Linked DNA regions of Homo sapiens: region 2 is linked to region 1. Evidence: fine-mapped expression QTL. A gene starts in region 1. The other region holds a variant in brackets. All regions are shown on one strand. Distances are from middle to middle. Region 1 holds the start of DLEC1 (DLEC1 cilia and flagella associated protein). Region 2 overlaps DLEC1 (DLEC1 cilia and flagella associated protein).

The links.
Region 2: its variant is fine-mapped to the expression of DLEC1 in subcutaneous fat (GTEx, PIP 0.96).

The regions. Positions count from the first base shown.
Region 1 is chr3:38,037,538-38,040,454 of GRCh38, reverse strand. It overlaps DLEC1 (DLEC1 cilia and flagella associated protein), which reads right to left and starts at 1,247. Exons shown (of 37, transcript NM_007335.4): 1 at 819-1,247. The coding sequence starts at 1,229. RefSeq lists enhancers at 453-682, 973-1,182.
Region 2 is chr3:38,099,256-38,102,172 of GRCh38, reverse strand. It overlaps DLEC1 (DLEC1 cilia and flagella associated protein), which reads right to left. Exons shown (of 37, transcript NM_007335.4): 19 at 1,748-1,887. Among named protein-coding and RNA genes, the nearest start is that of ACAA1, 36 kb to the left of the region's middle. The variant C/T (reference allele first, on the strand shown) is at 1,239.

The sequences.
Region 1 (2,917 bases):
CCTCAGTTAGGTTGAAAGCTACAGAGGACAGGTTGCGTGTGTGAGTGTGGGTGTGCCCGAACACTGGCGTTTTTATTCACTGCTGAATCCCCACTGCCTAGAACAGAGTATGACACCCAGCAGACATTCAACAAATGTGTTAAGTGAAGGAATGACTGAAGCTAACGACGTGGGATGCATGTCACTTAAGGGGCAGGTAGAGGACAGAACAGAAAGGAGAAGAAGAAGATCTGAGAGGCAGGAAGCACACCGGGGTAAAGGATCGGGTATGGGAGGAGTGCCCACAAGTTTAAGGGAGTCTTCAGTAGTGTGGCCAGCAGAGGCCGACTCAGCACAGAGGCCGCGAGTCAGCTGGTTTTCTCCTTGTACAGATGAGGAAGCAGAGTTGCTGTTCTAGAGGCTAGACACGCTTCCTAAAATCTGCGCATGAATGGCCCAGTCAAGATTGTGGTTTGTGATACAAAGGCACCCCAAAGCCGGGTGACTTTTGGCTTTATCCTCTCCATGGAACAACTATTCAGCGGTCTGCCGCAGTCGTTCATTGATATATGCAATATATAACGTATGTGTCTAGAGAAATATAGACAGGTGCTACAGATATATGCCGCACGTTGTGTGGTATGTGTGGTATTTGCGCATGTGTGTGTATGGATAGAGCGTCCTTCCACTAGAATGTCGGGCCCACTTCGGCATGATGGGCTGTTTCTCAACTGCAGCCCCAGATCCTGGAACAGCGCCTGGCACCTGGCAGGTGCTGACGCGTGCCGAGCGCTGAGACCCCGGCACCGTCCGCAGACGCGACGCCACCGCCACGTTACCTGCTGCAGCTGGTCCACGAACTCCTCGTGGCGCTCATTCTCGCTGCCGCGGGCCTTGATCAAGCTTGCGCTCACTTCGTCGCCGATGACCTCGGCTGAGTACAAGTTGCGGAAGACGCCGGTGAGCAAGTGCGAGATATCTTGGGTGCGCAGCGAGGAGGGGCGCAGACGAAGCAGCTGAGGCTCGGGACGCTGCGCCAGCGCAAGCTGCGTGAGGCGGCGGGGCCGGGCTGCGAAGCTGTAGTGGAAGGCCTCAGAGTAGGCGAGGGAGGAATACAAGGAGGACTTCCAGGTGGGCTGGCTGGGGCTGCTGGACCCGGCTGGTGGCGAAGTTGGCGCCCACATTGTCCCCTGGCACTCGTTGGTCCGGGACGCTAAAGACCTCCGCGTTTTGGAGCTCCTGGTCTCCATGGCAACCGAGACGCCGCTAACTCCCTGCGGCACTTCGGCTTCCGGCCTCACCCCTTCCGCCTTGCCTTTCTCTCGGATCCCGTCATCGCTGTGGTCATTGTAAACATTTGTGTCTTCAGCATTGTCCTTTTAAAAGTGAGCTTACTAAGTGTGAGGACCCATGAAGAAAGGTTTAATTGACACAGCCAGGCCTATCTGCAAAACCTTGTACCTAACTACCTACCTTCATCCATTCTTTAATTTGTTAAGCAACTGTTCATTCACTCATCATATTTATTGTGTAAAGATTGTGTTTCAGGTCTGTGCTGATTGCTGAAGATACCAAAGAAGTATGATGCTGCTTCTGCCTTCAGGAAGTGCACAGTCGTGTATGTGTGTGTTTGTGATGATGGCGGTGGGTGTGGAGGTAAAAGTAAAACAACTGTACTTTAGTGGGTTAAGGCCAAGGTGGAGATAAATATTGGTTGTCATGGAACTACAAAGGAGGACAGGAACTTAGTCTGTAGAAGGAGCGATTACTTCTTGGAACAAATGAAAACCAAGCAGAGATTTCAAAGAAGGAGTAGACTGAACATCATTAGTCATCAAAGAAGTGGAAATTAAAACCACAATGCAGTACTACAGTTAGTAGAATGACAAAAAACAAAAAAGTACCTAAATAAGAGCGTGTGTGTGGTGGCTCACACCTGTAATCCCAACACTTTGGGAGGCTGAGGCACGAGGATCACTTGAAGCCAGGAGTTTGAGACCAGCCTGGGCAACATAGGGAGACCCCATCTTTACAAAATATTTAAAAATGTGGGAAGGACGGAATGAAATTCAGGAGGAGTGGAACTTAAAGAGTGTGAGGGTGGAGGAATGACACTGATAGGTTAGGGCCAGATCATAAGTGGGTTGGTAGGCCACAATAGGGAATTTGGACTTTATTTTGAGGGCAGTAGGAGGTTCATCAAGGGTCTTAAGCTGGGGCATGTCATGGTCAGCTCTGTTTTACTAAGATCATTCTGATTGCTATGAGAATAGACAGGAGAGGCAAGAGGCATCAGGAAGTTCAGTTAGGAAACTAGCACAGAAGTTAGGAAAGAGATGAAGGGAGATTGGATGAGAGAGAGGGAACTGGATTGGAGATAGATCCAAAAAGTAGAATTGATAAGACTTGCTGGTGGATAATGGGAGGTAAGAAACAGGCACCAAGAATGACTCCCAGGTATCCTGTGTGTGCAATCAGGGGGGTGATGACAGCATCACTGAGATGGAAAAGAGGACTGCATTTGTCCAGGGCAGCAGCATAACATCACATTGACTGTTGTCATTTGCACACCATGGCTTTTGCTCACAGGTGATACAACCAACCACTTTCTACTCCACACTGAGTTTGCTTGCCTTACATCCTGAAACCCACTTCCAGAGATGAGTGCTAGCATGCTTGCCCACACACCTGGGCTACTTCCACTTCTACTTCTCTTGGTTGGGCCTGGCTCTCTCTTTTGTCCTTTCCAGGACCTTTTCTGTCCTGAGAGCTGAGAAGCCAGGGCCGCCTGCCCTGGACTGTGTGCTTGAGAGGCCCATCTCTGGCTGTCCCCCGCACTCTTTCCCACAGAGTAAGAGATCACAGGGCCAAGATGATGTGCCCCGTGCCTCGCCTCCAGGCACATGGGACCCCAAAAGTATGTGCCCACATGTCCTGA
Region 2 (2,917 bases), 62 kb before region 1:
GGAGAGAAGGGCCCACAAAAAAAGAGCAGTAGATGGGTTGGGGCTGGGATGGAGGTAGAGAAGGGGGAAAGAGGGTAGAGAAAGAGAGGAAGCAGAAGACCAGACAAAGGGAAAAGTGTTGGGCCCTTGGATTCAGCAAGGTGGGAATGCCCAGTTACGTGAGCCAATGCTTCCTCTTTTTTGCCTAAGTTGGTAATGTCTGTGTTTCCATCACCTGCTACTGTAAACATTCTGATAATACAAGGTCCTTTCAGGAGAAAGAACAGAGACAGAAAAGGAAAGGAAATAAGCACAGACTTAATAGAAAGCCCTTCCCCTGAGCTGCAGGCAGACTTAGCCTTCACATCTAATGCCCGCAAATTGCCCTGAAGGACCAATGCAAAGACTCATACCTAGACCTGTATTTGTTATCACAGGAGGGGACATTTGAACAACTGTCAGATGGTCAAGTATACAAAGTCCAACAACATTTGTCATGGTGAAAGTGTGGGGTAATGGCTAGTCTCACACACTGTAGGCAGAAGTATAAAATGACACAGTCTTTTTGGAGGATAATTCAAGAGCATCCACAGAGATTTAAATGAGCATTTAAATGTTTTTACAATGAAACACCAAATATATGCAAAAATGAGTATAAAACATATATACAGTTTAAACATATATATAGTTTAACGAATAATAAAACAACATCTATGTACTACCTCCACACAACTTTAGAAACAAAATATTATCACCAGCCAGCTTAAGAAAATGAATATATATATATATTCATTCACTGCAACCTCTGCCTCCAGGATTCAAGTGATTCTTCTGCCTCAGCCTCCTAAGTAGCTGGGACTACAGGCGAGCACCACCATACCTGGCTAATTTTTGTATTTTTAGTAAAGACGGGGTTTCACCATGTTGCCAGGCTGATCTCGAACTCCTGACCTCGTGATTTGCCTGCCTCGGCCTCCCAAAGTGCTGGGATTACAGGCGTGAGCCACCATGCCCAGCAGGAAAATGAATATTTTATTTGAAAATAATTTGGGAAGGAGTGGGGAGAAGGAGATAGGGGATATGGATGAAACAGTACTTGCAGTGAGTTGACAATTATTGAAGGGAGGAAAGAGTATGTGGAGGTTTATTATACTATTCTTTCTGTTTTTATATATATGAGAAGTTTTCCACTAGAAAGAAAGAAAAGGAGGGAAGTGGGGGAGCGGAGGGAGAATGAAGAAGAAAAAAAGGAATACTAC[C/T]AATACCTTTGAAACCTCTAGCATGTTCCTCCCAGAATACAATGGTATGTGCTTATTTAAATATGTCACACTTTTTAAATGTCCATTCTCCTGTTGACAGACAGTGGTTTTTTCTAGTTTTTCCTGTAGGAACAGTCCAGTCTGAGCATTCCAACATGAGCACACATCTCCCACTGTGCATGTATAAGGATTTCCCTGGGAGTATACTCAGAAGGGCAAACACTAGCTGATGCTAACGTAGTTTCGAAAGTAGTTATACTAATTTACATCTCTTTAATACACACACCCTAGAAAGATATATACATAATATTATCAGTGGATCATCCCTAGGGAATGGATTATGCGTCATTTTGAGTTTCTTTTCTGTAATTTACAAATTTTATAGAATACTAATTTTCTGGATTCAATAGTTTTAAATCCAGAACATCTCTAGATAAATATATAATATAGATAAATACATCACGAATATGCATAGTTTGTTGTAGTGGCTCTTCCCACGGCACCCTTACCTCCAGGCACCATTTTCCACCTCCAGCTCCAGGACGGTCTCCAGATGCTGGCAGTGCAGGGCCTCCAAGGTGATGTCCACCCTGCACTCCCCCAGAGAGTGAAGCTGGCCACTCGAAGGCTCAATGTCGAAGGGAGACACCTGCCCCGGAGAACACTCAGGAGGATGAGCACTGAGGACACTTGGAATTGCAGAGGAACTGGGGGCTGGCCATGCCTAACCAAAGTCACTCCTAAGCTGCCCCAGCTCTTCCAAGAGCCATCTGGGATCCAGAAACAGGCAAGCAGGTGGGGGACCACAGCCACAAGAGTCTCAGGATTAAGAGCATAGAAACTGAGTCTCCAAGTAAAGGAATACATAAGTCAGAGGGCCCCATGCCCTGGCCCAGATCTGAGAGATAGAAGGCGGAGGGAGGTGCTCCAGGGAAAATGGGGAGAGCTGGGGAGCCAGAGGAGAGCTGGTGAGCCAAACTAGGGGGGTAGCCCTCTGAGCAGCTTCAACTGAGGAAAGCCACCAGGTCACTAGATTAGGGGAGGGGAGAGTCTATTGTGGCCAGATTTCTCCTTTGCACCCACGTGGTCTTTCCCCCACCCCTTCCTTCTGTCCCCTACTGCAGGCTCAGCCTCATTTACCCGCCCCCACCCCCACCCCGCCCCCGGTCTGCTCCTCCTCCCATGCCAGGCACACACACAAAGGGAGAGGGGAAGGGAAAGAGCAGGAAGAAAAGTGTCCCCATCTGGGGAGGGCTCTTTACATTCCATTCTTCCTGCCCTGACTGAGAGAGGACACTTGTCCCTGTAAGGAGCCACTTTGCTTTATTTTGTCTTTGTTGCTCATGTGCATCTCCCTTGGAGCTCTGGGGGTGGCTGTAGTCTAGGGTTGGGTTTCAGCAGCTCTGCGTCCCCTAATCTGAGACCATCTAACAAACCCCAAATCCCAACATTATTTTTGAGAGCTCAAAAGAATAGAGTGCAGAGAACTGTAGAGAGGGAATTATCTTACAATACTATAACATTGGCAATTATTTCCATTATAAAACATAGTTATTCTTCACAGTGGGAGAACACCACAGACTGAAAACTAGACAAGAGGGATCAGATGTGATGCCGCTACCCATCAGCCGTATGACCTTGGGGAAGCCCTGCCCCTTCCAGTCTCTCCTCTATCAAAT